Regions from separate parts of the Homo sapiens genome. Here all the other regions are linked to region 1. Evidence: fine-mapped expression QTL. A gene starts in region 1. Each other region holds a variant in brackets. All regions are shown on one strand. Distances are between the middles of the regions.

Region 1 (5,800 bases):
ATTAACCATCTCAATGTGTCAACTTTGCTAGGGCATGGTACCCGGACATTTGGTCAAATATTATTCAAATAAATTTAGAATTTATCACAAATGTTTGATATCATAATTTGATTTACAAATATCAATCTAATACTTTATTTTACAGCTGAATGATCTCAGAGAGCAACCCCTTCCTTCTATAGGCCAAGAAATGGAGTCATTGTGAGATTAGTAACTAATTTACCCAAAATCACAGAGGACCCACACAGGATCCCAAGGCTCCTGACTAACAATCCTATGTTCTTCAACTACAAATGCTATAAAACAAAACAGCTATAAAATGCTACTTTAAGTGTTTTGGCCTCTTTTGTTTTGTTTTGAGAAGAAGCTTTGGCATTTTATAGTACAACAGAGTGACTAAAGCCATGCTCTAACCTCAGATAACTGTAGATTTAGGAAGTTTATACTGTGGTGTTTTATGGTTTGGGGAGATGGCGATCTGACCTAGATATCTGCACTTGAATATATATAATCAGAATTATTTTCTAATTGTTTCTATTGTCTTCAAGGCAGTTTATATTTTTTGCTAAGCCCTACTGGGGATGTATAAAAGACTGGGGAAGGGTGGGCCATAATAAGGTAAGGCCATAATAAGGTAAAATAGGTTGGACAAGATAAGTTAGCCAATATCTGAGTAAAGACTTCAAGGAACTGTAGGAGGAAGCAAATGAATATTTGTGGAAGTGTGTTTAAATCAGAGAGAAAAGCCAGCAAAAAGCCTTCAAGTTAGGAGTCTGCCTGGCCTGCTTAAGAAACAGCAGGGAGGCCGGTGTGCTGGGAGCAGAATGGATGACCCAGTGATGGGGAAATTCATGGGAGATGAGGTGTGGGGCAAAGGTACATAGCTCACGTAGGGTCTCATGGGCCATTTTGAATTTTATTCTGATTTGAATGGGGAACCATTGGAGGGTTTTGAGCTGAGGAATGACATGATATTAATTTTAAAAGGAATGACTATGGCAACTGAATTTATACTTTGGGTTGTTGTTGGTGTTGGTTGGGGATTAGGGGTGGGGTTTGTCAAAGCAAGCAGACCAGTTGAGTTGAGAGACTACTGCAGTAATCTGAGAAATTCTGGTGGTTCAGACCAGGTGTCTCTGGACCTCTCCAAGAAAATAGACAGAGTTTTGAATGTGGAATGTGATTGGCAGAGAAGAAGTAAGGATGATTTCAAAGGTTTGTGGCCTGGGTAACTGGCAGGAAGTAGTTGCCATCTACTGAGATGGAAATGTCACCCACTGTGATTGGAGTATGTTTAAGGAGAAAGAACCAGAGTTCAGATGTGGACATGTCAAGTTTCAGAGGTCTGTTAGACATCCAAATGGAGATACCCAGTTGTTAGCCTGGAGCTCTGTGGAGAGATCTGGGTTAGAGATATAAATCCAAGAGATACAACTTTTCATTCAATTTGATTATTTATTGGACGCTTTATAAACTCTGTAAATACTGGGCACTAACCTAGACATTGCAGGTACAGATATTAAGAATATATAGTTTCTCCCTCAGAAATCTCTTAATTAATGAGAAAAGCAGACATGTCAACAAAACTGCAATATTTAATAAAAGAAGATATAAAGGCCTATAAAGGTGCTGATACAGGGAGAATTAATTAATTCCACCCTGGGGAATAGTCAGGAAGACCTTCAGAGAGAAAGTAAACAATTGATTGGAACTTTAAGATTAAGAAGGATTTCTCTGGGTGGACAAAGTAGGATCTTCCAAGCAGAGTGGAAACCATGAGCAAATGCAGTTTCATTCTTCAGAAGGTAAATGTGCTCTGGCATGCCTTAACTTATAACAAATTAATCAACTCAATACCTGCTACATTTTCCCTCACAATTTGGAATATATAAAGAGGCACATACTACTATGGACCAATACCTGGTCATATATGAGATTGAAGGACCTTTACTTACGAGGCTTAAAAATAAAGACTGCCCTTCATGTCAGTTGCAGGTTTATATCTAGTTCTATAGTATTAACTGAGGTGTCTTTTCCTATGTTTTCTGTGCATGATGACTTTTTAAAAATCAAAGACAGAGCAGCAGCCAGAGTAGTCTAGTTTCATGGCACACAGAATGGAGGATATTGCTGAACCCAGATTTAAAAAAAAAAAGAAGTCAATTCTTATTTTTTTAAGTATGGCCCTGAGCTCATCTCAGAGCATAAACAATAGAATTTAGAATATCTTTTATGACTCCGTCTGGCACCTCCTAAACTAGATCAAGATTCTCTAGCTCAGGGAAGAAGGGCAAAGGATGAGAAGGCACAGAGAGGATATAAACAGAGAGGTTGGTAGTGCCAGGCTCTGAAGAAGGTCCAACTTGGAAGGTCATTTCAGACAGGCGTGGAGTCAGCATTTGAGGCCTGTCTGGTCTCTACTCCTGCCAGGACTACCCTGTCAGCCAGCTTGGCAGGTATGGACCACCCAGCAGGAGTTTTTCTTGACTGTGCCCTAATCTTTTACTTTCCCAAGTTTCTCTATATGGGTACCTCCCCTTTTAAAAGCTCCAGACACAGCCAAGCACCACTATTGCTCCAGCAAAGTATGAAGCCCCAGAAATCAATGGTTTGGGGAAGAGTCTTAGGGGAACTAAATGCCTCCTTATTTTTAGATGCCATAGAACAAGAGCAGTTCAGGATCAATAACCATCCCACCCCATGATAAAACACGCCCCTTCCAGAATCTTTCCTTTTTCGTTCATTCTAGGTGTCTGTCTGGAACAGCTGGGGTATTTGAGCCACAGCTGAGCTTCTGAAAGCATTCTAAGGAACAGTTTTTCACTTATCTGATTCCTTTGAAAATAGGGGTATCTTATGTGATATCTGCTATCCCAGAGTCTTTGGTCCTCTGTTCCTTCTCAAGTCTTGGCTCCCGTGTACTACTTCAAAGCCCTATAGATATTTTATTCTAAAGAAAAGAAACTTGGTTCCTTTAAGTTGTTTAAACATTTCTTTCTGGGTATAAACTTGGGTTTGTGTCTGGGAGCTCTGTTAAAAAAAAAAAGTCTTTAGTAAGCCAAAGCTGTTAGAAGCTTATAAGTAAGTGACATTACAATTGACCGTCAGTAAATAGTGGAAAGATTGCATGACTAGCTACTCCTTCAGATCTGAGACAACCTGGAGCTAGATTTTTGTACTCTCTACTCAGAAAAGCATATAGTGACTTGGGGTTTGATGCTGTACAAAAATGACATGCTTATGCACAACTTTAACTTTCTGCAACACTTTTACAACTTCTTGTGAATGAAGTAGGCAGGGCTCGCATTTGACAGATGAGCTATGTCCAGCGTGAGGCAGAGTTAAAACCCTTTTCCTGGCTCAGGAACTTCAGGCTGGGGCCTGTGTCTGCTCTCCCTGCATCCCTGTCCTCTAGCAGATACCTCTCTGCTAACATGCTGAGTGTCCTTGGTAAATTACTCATTCTCTCTGTCTCCGTCTTCTAACCTCCACAATAAAGTCCTTCGTAGTTTTAACTATCTTTTCACTGTGCCCCAGTGAGCAGGAGTTTGGAACTTGATTGTTGATGGAAAGGCAATATTTGGATGGCTAAACACGCTTTCCAAGGTATCTCGCTGATCTTCCTCTCATTCCTGGAGATAGCTAACCTTTTTGTAAGTGTTTCTTTGAGTCTGTGGACTGCACTTAACGCTCTTGTAGGTCCTGCTTTCATTTGGAACGGGCAGGCGGAGAGGAAGGAAGTGTATTGCAACTACCAATATTTTCCTCTAGGAGGAGCCGCGCAGCTCAGTTGAGAGTGACACGCACCAACTCCAGCTCCTCGCCGGGAAGACTTCATCCCAGCAACTCGGAATGCTTGGCCCGGGCGGCACTCGGCCTCTCCGCAGCAGTTCTCGAACTGGCCTCCTTGAACGTCCGCTTCGCCTTCGCTTCTGCAACCTGGATCTGGGGGACTGCGGGCCAGGCGCGGCGTGACCCCTGGTGAACGGTGGCCGCCTTTTCCCACCCCTGCCCTCCCATCCTCCCTTCCCGTTTCACCCCGCCCCCTCTCTCCTCCCCAAGCCTGACAGCCCGCGAGCTGCCAAGCAGGGCGCAGCCATGGGAAGAGGAGGAGGGCTAGGGAGCGGCGGCGGCGGCGGCAGCGGCAGCAGCAGCTGCTACAGTGGCGGTGGCGGCGGCGGCTGCTGCTGAGCCCGGGCGGCGGCGGGGACCCCGGGCTGGGGCCACGCGGGCCGGAGGCCCCGGCACCATTGGCCCCAGCGCAGACGCGAACCCGCGCTCTCTGATCAGAGGCGAAGCTCGGAGGTACTGGAGTGGGGCTCCGGGAGTCTGGCTTTATTTTCCTCCTGTTGTGCCAGGGGGCCTGAGGGTGAACCCTGGGACTCTAGTTGTTTATGAAAACGGGAGGATCTGTCTTATATATTTACACGGATAATTTTTTATTCCGGATGACTTGGCTGTGCTCCCCTCCTCCTTGCGAAGAAGTTGTTTTCTGCTGGTGGGTTGTTGTAACCCAATCTAGTGTGTGTGTGTGTGTGTGTGTGTGTGTGTGTGTGTGTGTGTGTGTGTCTGGAAGTTGGTGAGGGCGGCAGGGAGTTGCGGGCGACAGACGAACCATCACACTCTGGCGTCTGCTCTGGCCCGCGAGTAGTGTACGTGGAGGGGTTTACTCCGGAGACAGTTTTGTTAAAGTCATAAAAGTTTTGCTAGTGTGTTTCTGTTTGCCATCATCTGCCTGGCTGCGGCAGGAACTGCCGAGGCTGCTGCTGTTGCGCGGGGAAGAATCCCCGGCAGCGCGACTGGAGAGACTGGGGAGGTCGAGCTGTGCGCGTGGACACAGCGCGCAGAGCGCGCGGTCTTTTGCGCGTTTGTGCGGGCCGCAGCCGCACGTTGGCACCGATGGAACTGGGGTCAGTAGAGTGACAGCCACCAGTCCGCATGAACTGGGGTAAGTGGAAATTGTGGCGAGCCGACCTCCCCCAGCTTTTGACACACTAGTGGTTGTAAAATCAACCAGGCTTAAAGTTTTGACAGAACTGCCAGAGGCTGCGGGTCAATGGGGTGGCCGCGTGTCTAGGGAGAGGGCGCTGGCGGCGCAGAGGGTGCGGGGCAGGGCACTTGCGAGTGCGTGGGGAAGTCTATTTGGGGCGAGTGCTTTATATATAGCCCGAGGGGATGCCTGCTGAGACCGAGCTGCGGGGGCTCTCGGTCTGGCGCGGACTGTGTGTCCTGAATGAGTGTACGTGTGCGCTGTGTGTGCGCGCGCGAGTGTGCGCCTGGGGAGGCGTGTCGGCGCCTGAGCCAGTAGGGTGTGCAGGGTGGAAGAGGCCACAGAGGTGCCGCCTGTCTGTTTGTGCCGCCAGGAGACCTTGGAAGGGACAGAGAAAGGTAACGGAAGGCCAAAGTGTTGGGAAGTCAGAGTAGTTTCTGCATAGGATTAAGTATTAAGGGCTTTAAAATAACTAAACGCATTGCCCTGAGTGGCTGAGGACTGGAAGTGAGGTTTTGGGGAGTTCTCAGGAGAACTGCATGGGAGGGCGTTTGGGAGGTCTAAGGGATGTGTAATATGTGTGAGTACAGAACTTCGGAGACAGACACAGGTTGGAGCTATGAATTTGAAATTTTCAGGGTGCTGCTGTCCACAGTCCAGGGACTGGCTGGTTTCAGAGGTATTCAGGCTCCCTGGTGTGTGTGCCTGGGAAGACACTCATCTTTTCTTGCAGACATGGGATATTGTGGCAGGTCAGGCTCTGTTTCCTGAGCAACTGGTGTTCCAGGCTAGTTTCCACCTGAATCACCC
Region 2 (5,800 bases), 370 kb after region 1:
AAAAATAAAGTTTCACTGTATTGGTTTAATAGCCAATTAGATACACTGGAGATAGAATTAGTAAGCTGGAGAACAGGTTAGAAGAAAATATCTACTCTGAGACAGGGAGAAGCAAGAAAATGGCATATACAGAAAAGAACATGTGAGATATAGGAACTGGTAGTAAAGTCTATGAAAGGCTGTTGTCTCTCATCTAGTGTTGGGCCTAAAGTTGCTGCAGTCAGAAAGGCCTACAGGTAAAAAGAAAAGTTGGATGTCAAGTGGAAATACTGAGAACAAACTGGAATTTGCATCTTTCTTATACCTCCTTCGACCTTAATGACATGACGACCTGCAGGAAAAGATGGTGCCCTACGCCATTGAGCTTCAAGGACACCTGGCCTGAGACTTCTAGCAGCTAAAAAAAGAAATCTGTTGGGAGCTTAAGAAGCTGTGGAACCAAACGTTTTTCCTTATTACTGAGATGATCCTTTGATAAGTGACAACTTGTATAAATTGCACTGTTCCCTGGGGCTCTACATTGACCTTCAAAAAATAATAGCTGCTGATTTGGTGAGCCAGAAGGCCAGCAACACCATGTGTGAACTGAAACACTGCCCAGCATCCTATACTAAACATCAGAGAAAATTAGTTCTTGCTATACTTCCATCTTCCAAACCTTGTGGAGATTTCTCTTACGGCTAACTCTACCTTAGAACATATAGACAAGGGAATTCTGGAAAACATAGTTCTAATTTAGCTAAGTTAACATAGTACAAAAACACCAAAGACAAAAGGGGGAATAAATGGAGTTAAAATGTTTTTAAGGTTTGTATCATGTCCATAAAGTGATAAAAGTACTAATTTTATTAAATTCTAATAAGTCAAGTAGGCATGCCATAAACTCTAAGATAACCACTAAAGGAAGAATAAAAGAATATTTATCAAGCTAATGATTATCAATCTAATAGAGGAGGAAAAAAGGGAAGTAAAAATAGTTATTCTGTCTAAATGAAGATGAGAAAAAAGAGAGAAATGAACATAAAATGTAAAAGCCAACAAATAATAAGCTAGTTGATTTAAACCCAAATATATTACTAAATGCATTAAGTTAAACTTGAATGAATTTCCAATTAAAAAAGATTGCCAGATTGAATAAGTATTAAAATCTGCTACTATCCTGCTTTCAATATACCTAAAATACAAAACTATAGAAAGATTTAAAATAAAAGATGGAAAAGAATATAACATGCAAATAGTAGCCAACATGAAGCTGGCATAGCTATACTAATATTGGACAAAGTATACTTTAAAGCAAGAAGCAGTTCTAGAGCAAAAGATGGATATTTTGTGATGTAAAGTGTTTGATTTACCAGGGAAATAAAACAACAATTCTAAATGTATATGTACCAAGTAAAATTCGCAGAACTAGTAGGTGACAGACAAATCCACAATCATAATGAGAGACTTTAATTCACCTTTTAGTGGTAGAAAAGTACATACAAATATGCAAAATTAGTAATGATATAGAAAATTTAAGCAACAAAATAAACAACTGATACTAATTGACATAAATGATATACCCAATAAATGCGGAATACGTATTATTTTCAAGTATGCATGGAACATTTAAGAAAGTTGACCATATCATAAATGAAAAAGTAAATTTCAACCTATTTCAAAGGTTTAAATCATACAGAGTAGGATCTACAAATTTATTATCTAAATATCTATATCAGAATACCATTTGACCCAGCCATCCCATTACTGGGTATATACCCAAAGGACTATAAATCATGCTGCTATAAAGACACATGCACGCGTATGTTTATTGCGGCACTATTCACAATAGCAAAGACTTGGAACCAACCCAAATGTCCAACAATGATAGACTGGATTAAGAAAATGTGGCACATATACACCATGGAATACTATGCAGCCATAAAAAATGATGAGTTCATGTCCTTTGTAGGGACATGGATGAAATTGGAAATCATCATTCTCAGTAAACTATCGCAAGGACAAAAAACCAAACACCACATGTTCTCACTCATAGGTGGGAATTGAACAATGAGAACACATGGACACAGGAAGGGGAACATCACACTCTGGGGACTGTTGTGGGGTGGGGGAGATGGGGGAGGGATAGCATTAGCAGATATACCTAATGCTAAATGACGAGTTAATGGGTGCAGCACACCAGCATGGCACATGTATACATATGTAACTAACCTGCACATGGTGCACATGTACCCTAAAACTTAAAGTATAATAATAATAAAATTAAAAAAAAAAAAAAGAAAGCTAGGAAGCCCTTCATTGTGGGGCTTGTAGATTGTCTCCTTTCTCGTTAAAAATAAAAGATTTTCTTGAGCCTCTCATCCTAGATGTCATGGTGTCATTAACAGGAATAAGAAAGTTGGGAGAAGAAGAAATTTGATAAAGCATAAAGATATGATGTGAACATGAGAATGGCCTGATCATATGGAATAGTATAGCAGGGGCTTCATGTAGCTCTAGAGTCATCCAGTAGTTTGAGCCCTTCATACCTAGAAACTCAGGCTTTGTGTCCCTCTTCAACCACTGTATCTCCCATTTATTTTCCAGGCCTTTGATGTTTAATAGTTTAAATTACCTTATTCATTCAAAAATATTTGGCAAGTGACTTCTGTGTCTCAAACATTATTCAGGGTCTTGTAAAAAACATAGAAAAGCTATTCTATACCTACACCATTTCTAAAATATGTTTCATTAATAAAATTTACTTTTTTAGGAATGATTTAAAACACTAAAGAAATACAAA[CTT/C]ATAATAATTTTGAAATTTTTAACAAATGAATTTTATTTATTTCATTTTATTCAGTTGAATTAAATGAAGAAAAGCACAAAGAACTAATAGAGAAAAAGGAGATGGAAATTTCAGAGTTAAATGCAAAGCTAAGAAGTCAAGAAAAAGAAAAACAAAATGAAATAATCAAGCTACAACTAGAAGTAAGTGTTTAAGAGTCTGCTAAACTTGAGGACACATCCCTTAGTCTAAACTGTACTTTGATTGTTTTTCATCACAGTGAGATACATTTTAGGATTAGAAGCAATTCTGTGAGAGGGCTTCACACATGCTCATTCTCCACCAAATGATTGCAGTAATCACATACCATACAACTGTCATCTGCATTGCCTTTCAGCACTTGACCTGAAAGTGGACCCTTGAGTTGTTCGAAAGTTCCTGGTTTTTAGGGAGGATATTGCTTCCTCTGAGAACTTTTCTTCTCAGTATTTCCCACTTGACATCCAACTTTTCCTTTTAACTGCAGGCCTTTCTGACTGCAGCAACTTTAGGCCCAACACTAGGTGAGAGACAACAGCCTTTCATAGACTTTACTACCAGTTCCTGTGTCTCATATGCTCTTTTCTGTATATGTCATTTTCTTGTTTTTCCCTGTCTCAGGGTAGATATTTTCTTCTAACCTATTCTCCAACTTACTAATTCTATCTTTAGTGTATCTAATTGGCTATTAAACCAATACAGTGAAACTTTATTTTAGCTATTGTATTTTTAGCACTCACATTTCCCTGACAGAAAACTCAAGGATTATCTGCATTTTATGGTAAATTCTATGTAGGTTTCATAATTTCTACCATTCCAGCATGGGAAGAATGTTTCTAACGCTTCACATTTATTCTCATCCCAGCCGAAATTTGTCAAAACCCAGTAACCAACTAGAAATTTATTTTGCTTTATTTCTCATTAAAAAAACAAATTTCTTCCTAATAACTTTCTGGAAGAATATATATCCTGGGGGCAAACAAACCAAATTCCTACAATTTTTTTTTTAAGGGACTTCTAATAGGGCATCTCAAAGGCTGAGGCTCTAACTCTTTGCTCAAAAGTCTTGAGTAGGCCGGGTGTGGTGGCTCACACCTATAATCCCAGCACTTTGGCAGGCCGAGGCGAGCGGATCACCTAAGGTCAGGAGTTCGAGACCAACCAGGCCAACGTGGTGAAACCCGCCTGTACTAAAAAAAAATTACAAAAATTAACTGGGCGTGATGGCAGATGCCTGTTATCCAGCTACTCAGGAGGCTGAGGCAGGAGAATCACTTGAACCCGGGAGGCAGACTTAGCAGTGAGCCGAGATTGTGCCACTGCACTCCAGCCTGGGCAACAGAACGAAAAAAATAAATAAATAAACAAACAGTCTTGAGTAGTTCATTTAACCGGATATCACAATCTCAAATGTACTTTGACAAAATATTTGTCCTTTAAATGTTTTCTAGACTCTATCAATCTACCCTTCCATCATTCTTCCGTTGCTTCCCCCCACCCCAACTTTCATTTTACCTTGTAAGAATTCACAAGTCTTAATTAAAATCACATACTACTCATATTCCTGAAACTTTGGAATCCCCAGGGTACTTGGTGAGTTACCTTGAGTAATCACTGGGCAGAAAGAGGACTGATGTTGACTTTAGATACCCTTTGCTGCTGGTGCTGCTGCTGCTGCTGCCATCTGACCAAGTGTACCACAAACCACAGGAAAGGCTGAATGGCCAACTGAAATTAATAGGCCATGTTTCAAGATCTACTACCAACTTCTAATCCTCCTCTGTTTGGAAATTTGCATTTTGTTTGCCATTTGGGCCTTATCACTGGTCTATTATTTGACTGGTATACACAGCTCCTTATTTGTTTTCATTGTACCTAACCATTTCTCTCCTCAAACCAGAGCATAATCTCAGAGTTTATTCTTAGTCCTCAGAGAGGCTATGTTAACTAAATCTGAAGAGAAGAGTTATATAATGGAATATTGTGCAAAAACAAAAAAAAATTGGCCTGTTAAGAATGGCCTATGAGAACTTTTTTAACCTGATTCAGTTTAATTGAAACCAGCAAGGGTTCAAACTATATCGACAAGATCGTATTCAAATTCTACTGTTCAGCCTCAAAGTTCCTGCAGAAAGCTAGGTGAGGTTTTCTTCCTTGACTGTTTATTACATTTTCTTTATAATACACTCATTTTAACGTAAAAATATTTTTACCTATATTTAAGTTAAACTAGATTCTAAACCCTGTCTGCACTATAGAATCACGTGATGTTTTGAGAAAAAGATGACGCTAGCTGCACACCAGAATCTCTAAAGTAGTGCCCAGGCATTTGGTACTTTAGAAACAAAGAAAAAAAAAACCTCTCCAGGTAATTTTGCCGTGCAATCAGGGTTAATCTTGTTTTTCTGTTCTTTGCTCTTTCTGAAAAATTATTTCTTAAAGAAAGATTTTTCTATTGTCTATACTGTAATTTACACCTGAATTACAGATTACATGTCAAAGGATAACATGGATTATAATTATAGAAACAATTGTTTCTAATTGTCTAGAGTTTCAATAACTTTCTTTTCAATTTGATTCAGTTTGATGCCAAACTAGCAAGAGTTCAGACTAAATCAAAATCATATCAGGATTCTACTGTTTTGCCACAAAGTATCTACAGAAGGGTATGTGAGTTTTCCTCTCAGTATTTGTTGCTTAAGAAAACTTTCTAAGCATGTTTCTATAAAAATCATCTAATTCTTATTAACAATATAAGGTATTTTTTAAAATACCAATAGCAGAAGTGCATTTCTTTGTTATTTTGTTGTTCCTTGTACTAAATTTTATTTCTGAATTCTAATAACAAATTTTTTGTTTCGTTTAGAAACTTCAGCATTTTCAAGAAGAAAAAAACAAGGAGATTGCAATTCTTCGTAATACCATTCGCGATTTAGAGCAACGCCTTTCTGTTGGCAAAGATTCTCACCTTAAGCGTAGACGGTTTTGAGCTTAGCA
Region 3 (4,000 bases), 290 kb after region 1:
GCACTGGTAGTGTGTTGTCCAAATCAAAATATATTAACATCAGATATCAGGATGAGAGACCTTGAGCTCACTATCTGTAACAGATATTGTTCATTGCAAAAGCAGAAGGAAGATTTAGTTTCCAAATTTTTCATTCAGGAGAAGTCCGGGGGGCAGGTGGAAGTTTAGAGACAGGAATTTGGTGGCAATCTCCGGATGGTAGAATTCAGATGATTCTTTTCTTTATATATTTTTATATTTCTGAAATTTTCTATAGTAAGTTTGTTTTGAATTTATAATCAGGAAAAAAAGCTGTACTGATGGTTAGGGAAGAAAGTATGTATCTATATGGATGGATAGATATGTGACATCTAAGAGGAAACCCAATATTGAGTCAGCATAGGTAGTCAACAGCAGGTGCATACGGTTTTAGAAAGCGGAGGTGTGGCTTTTACCTAGAGGAATGCCTAATAAGTAGTGTGGCAGTCATACTTAAAGGAGACGTGGAACATTTGAAAACCCTATGTAGGAGAATCACAACAATGATTAAAGTTTTTAAAAATGGGACCTATGAATTTAGAATAAAAGAATTAAAACTTTTAGATACAGAAATAAAGAAAACTGATTAATGATGAGCAGAAAGTATAGAGTATTATTATTCTCAAATGGGAAATGGCTCTATTCCATCTTCATTGAAAACAGAAGTTTACAGGGCTATATGTTTGTTAATGAAACAACCACAAGCTACATAGAAAATAAATTTATATTTCTGTATTTACTATACAGGTAGAATCTCATGATACTAAATAGCATTAGGATGAAAATTTCTATAGCACCATTTTCTCTATACTCTAGTTAACTGAATTCTTGTTTCCAAACTATTTGATATTATGCAATTCTGGCCTTAAAAGTACAATAGCTATACACCCTTAAGCTTAGTGTAGTGGCATTTAATTCACTTAACATATATTTTTTAAACTGCCTTTTCCTTCTGTTACTAACAAAAAAGAAGCTCTAACTTTATGTTATTTTCCTGAATATGTCATTGATATGAAATTATAGACACTACAAGACAAAAAATGATTTTTTCTCCCCCACCAATTCTTTAAAATGCTTATAATATCTCCCTAGGGGATTTTAATAACTTTTTAAATAAGAAAAGACTATTTCAGCATAAAGACCTACATTTTAAATGGCAATGTTAAGGTAAATTTCATCTGTCATTTTTATAAAAAAGTGGTTAGCCTCTGCCTCTGTGGTAAGAATACTGGGTACCAACTGCAAAGTAGCTGGCAGGTACTCAATCTTAAGGAATGAAATAGAAGTTTTACAAACAGGTTCCCCCAAGTCTCATACAAAGTATACTAAAACCTGAAGATGGGAGCCTCAGTAGTGATCTTTCTGTCAATTTTATGTATATAATATACATGAGATATATTTATTATATTTTAATAATTTAATTTATTGATATAAATACGTATATTTATAGCTGTAAAATATATGTTATTTGTGTCTAAGAAGTTTCTGTCATGATTTATCAATAAAAACTCTGCCTTCATCTTTTTGATAAATCTTCAATCTGGAAACTAAGAAAATCACCACACTTAAAAAAAAATAGAAAAGAAACCGAGTGGGCATTATTTAGGTAGTGTGTTAATAAGCAACACTTTTTTACTGAAGCTGAAACCTTTATGATACTCCCTGGACACATAGTATGCTTAAAGCAGATTGTTTGTTTTCATAAAACACACATTGATTTTGAACTATATGCTGTTTCTTTATTTTGAAGTTTTTTTTTAATGTGAGGAGATTTGAAAAGTGGACAGAGATGTTCATAAAACAGAAAAAAACTAAGTCGTTGCATTCTGTTTCAGTGGTTATCAAGAGAAATCACTGACTTTATTAGATGAATACAAATTATGAATTTTTTGTGAAAAGGGAAAGGGAAA[TG/T]TAAACTGTGCTTCAACTATTCGTAATTCTGAAAGCGAAATATTCTTGTGTGTTTCAGATTTCTACTTTCCATGGCTCTTAATTATTATCTTTGGAATATTTGGGCTAACAGTGATGCTATTTGTATTCTTATTTTCTAAACAGCAAAGGTAGGTGTGGAGTAGTATTCTTTGGTATTTTGTACCAGTTGTTTAGATTTCCATATGTGTTTCTATTTGTTATTTGATATTTTCTTTGTCAAATTATGAGTGGAAATTTTAGTTAACCTAGTACACTTTTATCTCCAGTTATATATTTACCATTCATATAAAACTCAATTTGTTGTATTTATCTTAGACAATTTAGAGGTTTAGATTCTATCTGGAGACTTGTACAGGACATTAAGAGGCTTAGGCTGGTGACTATGCATACCTTGTGATATGTACCTCTTTATCCAAGAGCTAGCTCTTTCCCTCAAGTCCTCAACAAGTTGACCCATTCATTCCAGGACTTCAAAGTATCACTGAGCCTTTGGCTGAGTCTGATACAGTCCTTATATACAGACAATTTTTTTTTTTCCTTGAGACGGAGTCTTACTCTGTTGCCCAGGCTGGAGTGCAATGGCGCAATCTTGGCTCACTGCAACCGCCGCCCCCCAGGTTCAAGCAATTCTCCTGCCTCAGCCTCCAGAGTAGCTGGGATTACAGGCATGCGCCACCAAGCCCAGCTAATTTTGTATTTTTAGATACAGTTTCACCATGTTGGTCAGACTGGTCTCGAACTCCTGACCTCAGGTGATCTGCCCACCTCAGCCTCCCAAAGCGCTGGGATTACAGGCGTGAGCTACCGCGCCTGGCCCCATTTAAGGTATTTTTAAAGTCCCAATGGTTAATCTTGTTGCTTCTCCTAGAATTAAGGTGACTAACACTCCCAGGTTGCCTAGAACTCTCCTGGTTTTTAGCAATGCAAGTCCGGTGTGCCAGGAAATCCCTCAGTTCCAGGTAACCAAGACAGTTGATCCCCTTACCTAGAATTGAAAATACGTTCTCCAGCTGAAGCCAAGAGGCATCTATAAATCAAAATGAGATCTATGTTAATATATTTTAAAAGATTTTACTTTGTTTTGTAAGGTAGTATAGCACTTGTAAACTTCAAAACAGAATTTTGTTAGGAAGAAGAATTATTGGGACGCTAGATTTCTATAGTGTCAAGCATGCTAAAAGTCTAACTGAATGCAGAAAGGGTTATTTTCAGTAGAGCTTCATGTCCAATTTTATAATATAAACCAATTGGAAAGTAAAATTCATTCTGAATTCCATTTTGCACCTAACTTTCTGGCAACATTCCTGTTTTCCAAAAAAGCAGCTATCATAAATCACAACACAATTTTCTATTGTTTCAGGAAAATAAATAAATATATTTTTAGAATTTTAATTTGTGTATTTAAGTAATGCCAACAACAAAAAAGCCAAATTATTCTGTTGATTAATTTCAGTTTATTAATCTATATATTTGGTGGGAAAATTTATACATAACTTCAGTAGATAAACTCACGAGGTATGTAAAGTAATTAGCTCTTAGTATTAGCTGTGAATTTCTAGCCATTGTGAAGGCCAAGTCAATTTGTTATGTTGTTTAGTTATATTAGTTAACAATATTAGGAAGAAAAAATTATCCTCTCAAAAAGTAGGATTTCCAAGAAAACATATTACTTCTAATACAGTGCTTTTTATAAATAATGAAATGCTTAACTATAATGTTTAGTCAAAATCACCAAATTCTACAATTGATTTGAAATCTTTATTGTTCTCCCAAATTTCCTGCACTAAATTGAATTTTCTGTAGGAAAGAATTAACTTTATTTTTTATTTGCCCATTAAAAACGCTTATCATTGTCTAAATTTGCATGTTCTACTGAAAGTGGGAAATAGTAGCAAATATTTGTCAGCAAGTATGGACAGAACATGTAGTTCCAACAATTAAATTGATACTGCAAAGAACGAGATTTTTCCTAGAACTGTAGGGCTGTAAAGTGGCGTCAGGTCCTACATGCCTTTGAAATTTTCTGAGTCCACAATTCATTATCCAACCC
Region 4 (5,800 bases), 190 kb before region 1:
TTCATGGCTCTAAAAATTCTCTATGCTCTATGCCTACTTATCTCTCCCCAAAACTCCTGGCAATCACTGATCTTTTCGCTATCTCCACAGTTTTTTATTTTCTAGAATATCATATAGTTAGAATCAAACAATATACAGCCTATTCATATTGCCTTCTTTGACAGAGTAATATGTATTTAAGCTTCCTCCATGTCTTGTTATGACTTAATAGCTCATTTCTTCTTACCTCTGAATACTATTCCATTTTCTGTATATTCCATAGTTTATTCCTCCATTCACCCACTGAAGGCCGTCTTGGTTGCTCCCAAGTTTTGGCAATTATCAATAAAACTGCTATAAACATTTGTGTGCAGGTTTTTGTGTGGACATACATTTTTAACTCTTTTTGTAAACACCAAAGACTGTAATTACTGGATCATAGAGTATGAACAGGTTCAATTTTATAAGAAAATGCGAAACTGTCCTCCAAAATTATTTTATCACTTAGCATTCTCACCAGCAATGAAAGAGTTCCTGTTGCTCCATGTCGTGAGCAGCATTTGCTGTGGCCATTATTCAGGATTTTGGCCATTCTAATAGGTGTGTTGTGATATCTCATTGCTATTGGAATTTGCATTTCCCTGATGGAATATTATATGAAGCCACCTGGATCTGCCATCTGCATATCTTCTTTGGTGAGGTGTTTGTTGAAGACTGATATAGTTTGGATATTTGTCCCCATGCAAATCTCATGTTGAAATGTAATCTCCAGTGTTGGAGGTGGGACCTAGTGGGAGGTGTTGGGATCATGGGGGCAGATTCTTCATGAATGATTTGTGCCATCTTCTTAGTGATGCTTAATATCTCTTGCTCTAAGTTCACATAAAATCTGATCATTTAAAAGTTGGTGTCACCTCCCCCACCAACTTTCTCTCTCTTGCTCCTGCTTTTGCCATGTAATGTGCCTGCTCCAGCTTCACCTTCAACCGTGAATAAAACCTTCCTGAGGCCTTCCCAAAAGCCAAGTAATGTTGGTACCATGTTTGAACAGCCTGCAGAAACATAAGCCAATTAAACTTCTTTTCTTTATAGATTACCCAGTCTCAGGTATTTCTTTATAGTAATGCAAGAACAGCTTAATATAAGATTTTGGGCCCATTTTTTAATCAGTGGTTTGTTTTCTTTTTGTTGAGTTTTAAGAGTTGCTTGCATATTTTGGATAACAGTCCTTTATCAGATATGTCTTTGCCAACATTTTCTCCCAGTCTACGACTTCTCTTTTATTCTCTTGACTGCATCTTTTGCAGAGTAGAACATTTTGATTTGAATAAAATTCAGCTTACCAATTCTTTCATGGATTGTGCATATATGTAATTGAATAGATTGCTGCTATCATTATTTTGAATAAGCTCTTAGATTAAGGAAAATAAAAATTTTAATTTTACCTTTACTTATTCCTTCTCTTATGCTCTTTATTTATATAGATCTGAGTTTCTTTTCATTCTCTCCATGGAACTTTATAAAATTTTATTGCAAGGGAGGCCTACTGGCAACAAATTTCCTTAACTTTTGTTTGTCTGAGAAAGTCTTTATTTCTCCTTCACTTTTGAAGGATAATTTTGCAAAATACAGAGTTCTAGGGTTGGTGTTCTTTTTCTCCCAACACTTTCAATATTTTATTCCATTCTTCTGTTGCTTGAAATTTCTGAAGAGAAGTCAAATGTCATTCTTATCTTTATTCTTCTGTAGGTAAAAGGGTTTTCTCCCTCTGACTTCCTTCAGTGTTTTCCTTTATTTTTGATTTCCTGTAGTTTGAAAATGATATGCCTAGATGTAGTTTTGTTGTTGTTGTTGGCAGAGAATACTATGAAATCAAATGTATCCACAAGAAATATATTTTTTCTTTTTTGTTTTAATATTTTATTGCATATATTTATGATATACAATATTGGTGTTTTGATATAAGTATACCATTACATGTAAGCTGCACCTTTTGTAGGTGTCTCATGGTTCTTGAGTTGTTTGTTTTTTTTTTCTATTTTTTCAGTTTAGAGCCAATGATAGAAGTGCTCTTGTTGGCTGACCACACACAATCTAAAGCTAATCCCCACTTTCTTGAACCCACTCTAAAATTACCTATGGTGTGCTTTCTCCATTACTGCAGTGAGTAATTAAACCAAATTTATTTCAATGGCATCTGTGTTCATGGTGGTCTTTAGCTGGAGGTAACTGACAAACAAAACATCAAAAGTACATAAAATACAATAATGTTCACTGTGGCAATGTTTAAATAACAAAATACTGTAAAGCAAACTAAAGGTCCATCCTTTGGGTACTGAAAATAAATTTTAGTCTCCCTTTTAAGGGAATACTATGTACCTTTTCAAAAGAATGAGGTATATCTGTGTGTGCTGATATGGAAAGATCTCTAAATTATGAAGCAACAAAGCCAAGTATAAAAAAATGTGGACATTATAACTCAATCTTTATGCATCTTTAAATGCTGCATAATACCTTTTGCTGTTCTCAACTGCCTTTTAGAAGAAGCAGAAGAAGGAGGCACAGGAGTAGAAGAAGATCTTAGAAAGAAAACAAAGAAATATATTTGCCTTTTCATTTTCTACAGAGGCACCATGTTAACACAATTCAATAAGAATTTACTAGACACCTACTAGACACGAGATATTTTGCTAGGTCACACAGGAAAAGAACAAGATAGGATCCCTGTCATTTAGGTACACAAGATTTGCAAGCAGAAAAATATATGTTAAAAAGTGAGAAAATCTGGAATATGATAAACTCAAATAAAAATGCACAGTTCATGGATATAGAGTAAGATTTATTCTGTTTGGGGCATCATTGAACATTTCATAGAGAAATGGAATTTGAGCAGGACATTGAAAACAGAATAAAATCGGGTGATTGTGATAGAGAAGAAAGTGTAGGTGAAAATTAGTGGACATAGGAAAAGCATTGTGAGTGCTCTGGAAATGAGCACTTCAATTACACAGTACCTGGCACATTGCAAAACACAATGAATATGTGTTGAATAAACAAAATGTGGAAATGAATTAATGCTGTACAAAAAGAAGAAAAGGGGCCAAGGTGACAGTTTGCCCACTCCTACCAAAATGATATGAATAAGAACAACAAAATATTGTTCTGGAGTTGTGAATCCAGCTAAGTATTTTTCAAGGGCTTATATCTGTTTTCCAGTGTTCCCTTGAAGAATTCACATTTTGCAATTTTAAATTATTGCT[ACTGT/A]CTAAGGAGTTTGAGTCAGATAATTAATGGGTACTATTGGGAAATAAAACCCTGTGGCATAAATTTAAAGTTTCACTTATTTTGAGGCAACTTTAGAATCACCTGACTTATGAGAACACACAGGTCAACTCTTTCCCACCTATCCCCAAAGAGTGCAGGGCAGGCATAGCCTGGATGTTCAATATTTGTCAGATAGAAACTAATATAATCAAAATCCAGGTCCTTTGTCCACAGAATCACGTTTGTTGTGCTCTGTAAATTAATCATTTATGTGGTGACAGGATGAATAATCCAAAAGCTTAGTTCATTTCCTATCAAGTAGAGAAATAATGATATTTGAAAAATGAACACAATAATATTTGATGTTTCGATAATCAGTCTTATTTGATCAAATTTCCCATAGATTCTGGAACAACTAGTGATAGAGGAATTATTTCTAAAGGGGACAGAAATTGTGGCAGCTTTGTCTGCTTTATTGACATTAATGGTACCAGAAAAACCCATTGTATGTGCCCAGCCAAGCCACTTCCTCTCTATCATGTCTCTGGACTTCTGACCCAGCACACTCACACCGGAAGTCTCAGGACTGCATAACAAGCCATAGTGAACATCGAGTCCCCAGCTCAAGATATTTCTGGAGTTTGCCACTACACTGTAATATGTGCCAAGCAGAACCAGAAGCTTTTCGCAAATAGTACATCCCATTTCTTCCTCCCACAGGAGCCCCTAAGCAACCCTTAGTTCATGACCTGCTTGCTTTTCACTGATCTCTTTCTGTCACCATCAGATTAGGTAACACTGCCTCTCAGCTATATGCTCTCTGACTCCCCAGATGAGGTGCAGAACTTCTGCATGCAGCCCAGGCTTGGTTAGTCTGTATATGCTGTTATAACAAAATACCTGAAACTGGGTAATTTACAAACAATAGGTATATAGATCTGGAGGTTAGGAAGCCCAAGATCAAGGCACCAGCAGTTGGGTGTCTAGTGAGGGCCAGGGATCTGGCTCCAAGATGCCACCTTGAATGCTGTGTCTTCACATGATGGAAGGGATAGAAGGGCAAAAGGGCCTAGCTGGTTACCTCCAGTCCTTTTATGATCACATCCTGTTCATGAGGGCTGTGCTCTCCTAATTTAATCAGCTTTTAAAGGCTATACTTTTTAATACTATCATATTGGTGATTAAGTTTTAACATGTGAATTTTAGGGGACACACTTAGACCATAGCACCAGTATAATCCAAGATCTAGAAAAATATGATTAAAAGTGTCCTGGTTGGTCTATACTAGGCTACCTAAAAAAAGAGGAGGGCCAGAGAGGCAGTCCTTATTCTTAAGAACCATTTGAATATGACATCCAAGAACATGAGAGAAACACCTGGGAACATCTAAGGCTGCATGTCCCCCGGATAGGAAACCAAATATTTTGAGAAAGAGTATCAAGGCAAGCATAGTGACCCATGTAGTACACTGGGGTTTCACCCAAGTGGTTTAGAGGCTTAAGCAGTGGCTTTGAAATGTAGTTATATATGTGCTAGCATGTTTTTTTCCAAATATGCATGCCTGGGCTTACCTAGAAAAGTAACCTGGATCTCTGATAGTGGAAGGTAAGTAATTTGTATTTTCAGAAAGCTTCTCAGATCTGATTGTTGTTCTTGCTTAAGCACTGGACTTGAGTAAACTAGAGGTATTGAATATAAATATCATGGTTAGTAGCTTTATCCATCCGCCTGGGGGAATGGTCTGGATTGTGTTTCCCAGTAGAGGGATCAGTACCTATATCATTTGGATTGCTTTGCAAGGGAGTAGGAAGAAAGGAGAAAAGTGGGGAGAAAAGTAGCTTACCACTGGGATGCCCTGCGTAGAGCTAGGTATTGAAATTATAAGGCTCCAGGAAAGATCTTTATCTTGTGTGCTGGGGTTGAATTGAGTGGTCGGGGAGCAAGGGAATGGTTATTTGTGTAACCCCAGTTTATAATTCCCTCTGGATTACAACTGTAAAGAAAAGTTTCTTTCAGTGGTTTAGGTTAACAAAGGCTTTCTTTATGGTGGTGGTGGCAGGGATTCTGTAGCTACCACTAGTGACAATGATATTGTATAATAGAGCTTCTAATTTTTTTCCTATGTCCATTCCTGGGCCACAGATACTAAGGAAGCTGAAGTGACCATGAAAGCTATACCGGGTGATTTGCTTTGGGAAAGATGGCTCCACATTGGTGTGGGAAAACTGATTCACAGAATTGTGGGGTTCTTACAAGGTGTTCCAGGCCATTCAGTTCTCTTATATCTTCTTGGTATAAAAAGTGCTTTTTTCTTTTTTTTTTAAATTCATCAATAAAATTTGAGGTGGTAGCAGTTAGTTACTCGCCCACATTCGAGGTGGTAGCAGTTAGTTACTCATCCACATTCTTGCCACTTGGTTTTTGAAGAAAGCCAGTCTCAAATAAAATGTTTTCACACATATAAACATTTTTAGACAAATATTTATTAACAAAGATAATGGTTAAGAAATCCTTTCTGTAAGCTTGATGAAGTCCCATTTCTCTGTCCTTTAAGATG

Which allele goes with the higher level. Alleles are on the strand shown, and positions count from the first base shown. SD is a standard deviation of normalised expression in the study named. Not every link is listed here.
In carriers of allele TG in region 3, the expression in anterior cingulate cortex of the gene that starts at base 3,789 in region 1 tends to be higher than with T alone (small effect, 0.38 SD a copy in GTEx).
As copies of ACTGT replace A in region 4, the expression in fibroblasts of the gene that starts at base 3,789 in region 1 goes up (small effect, 0.32 SD a copy in GTEx).

Evidence for each region. PIP is the estimated chance that this variant, and not a neighbour inherited with it, causes the effect. A credible set is the group of variants that fine-mapping cannot tell apart.
Region 2: its variant is the best candidate, but not a certain one, in a credible set for the expression of GHR in lung (TOPMed, PIP 0.85).
Region 3: its variant is the best candidate, but not a certain one, in a credible set for the expression of GHR in anterior cingulate cortex (GTEx, PIP 0.83).
Region 4: its variant is the best candidate, but not a certain one, in a credible set for the expression of GHR in fibroblasts (GTEx, PIP 0.53).

The regions. Positions count from the first base shown.
Region 1 is chr5:42,419,651-42,425,450 of GRCh38, forward strand. It overlaps GHR (growth hormone receptor), which reads left to right and starts at 3,789. Exons shown (of 10, transcript NM_000163.5): 1 at 3,789-4,305. RefSeq lists promoters at 3,072-4,157, 3,581-4,153, 3,763-3,863, 4,061-4,829, 4,482-4,829 and 1 more, cis regulatory regions at 3,072-3,580, 3,918-3,958 and an enhancer at 3,785-3,934.
Region 2 is chr5:42,793,990-42,799,789 of GRCh38, forward strand. It overlaps CCDC152 (coiled-coil domain containing 152), which reads left to right. Exons shown (of 9, transcript NM_001134848.2): 7 at 2,840-2,967; 8 at 5,386-5,469; 9 at 5,670-5,800. The coding sequence ends at 5,792. Among named protein-coding and RNA genes, the nearest start is that of SELENOP, 15 kb to the right of the region's middle. The variant CTT/C (reference allele first, on the strand shown) is at 2,783.
Region 3 is chr5:42,711,442-42,715,441 of GRCh38, forward strand. It overlaps GHR (growth hormone receptor), which reads left to right. Exons shown (of 10, transcript NM_000163.5): 8 at 1,988-2,078. Among named protein-coding and RNA genes, the nearest start is that of CCDC152, 43 kb to the right of the region's middle. The variant TG/T (reference allele first, on the strand shown) is at 1,929.
Region 4 is chr5:42,232,180-42,237,979 of GRCh38, forward strand. No RefSeq gene overlaps it. Among named protein-coding and RNA genes, the nearest start is that of LINC02996, 60 kb to the left of the region's middle. The variant ACTGT/A (reference allele first, on the strand shown) is at 3,240.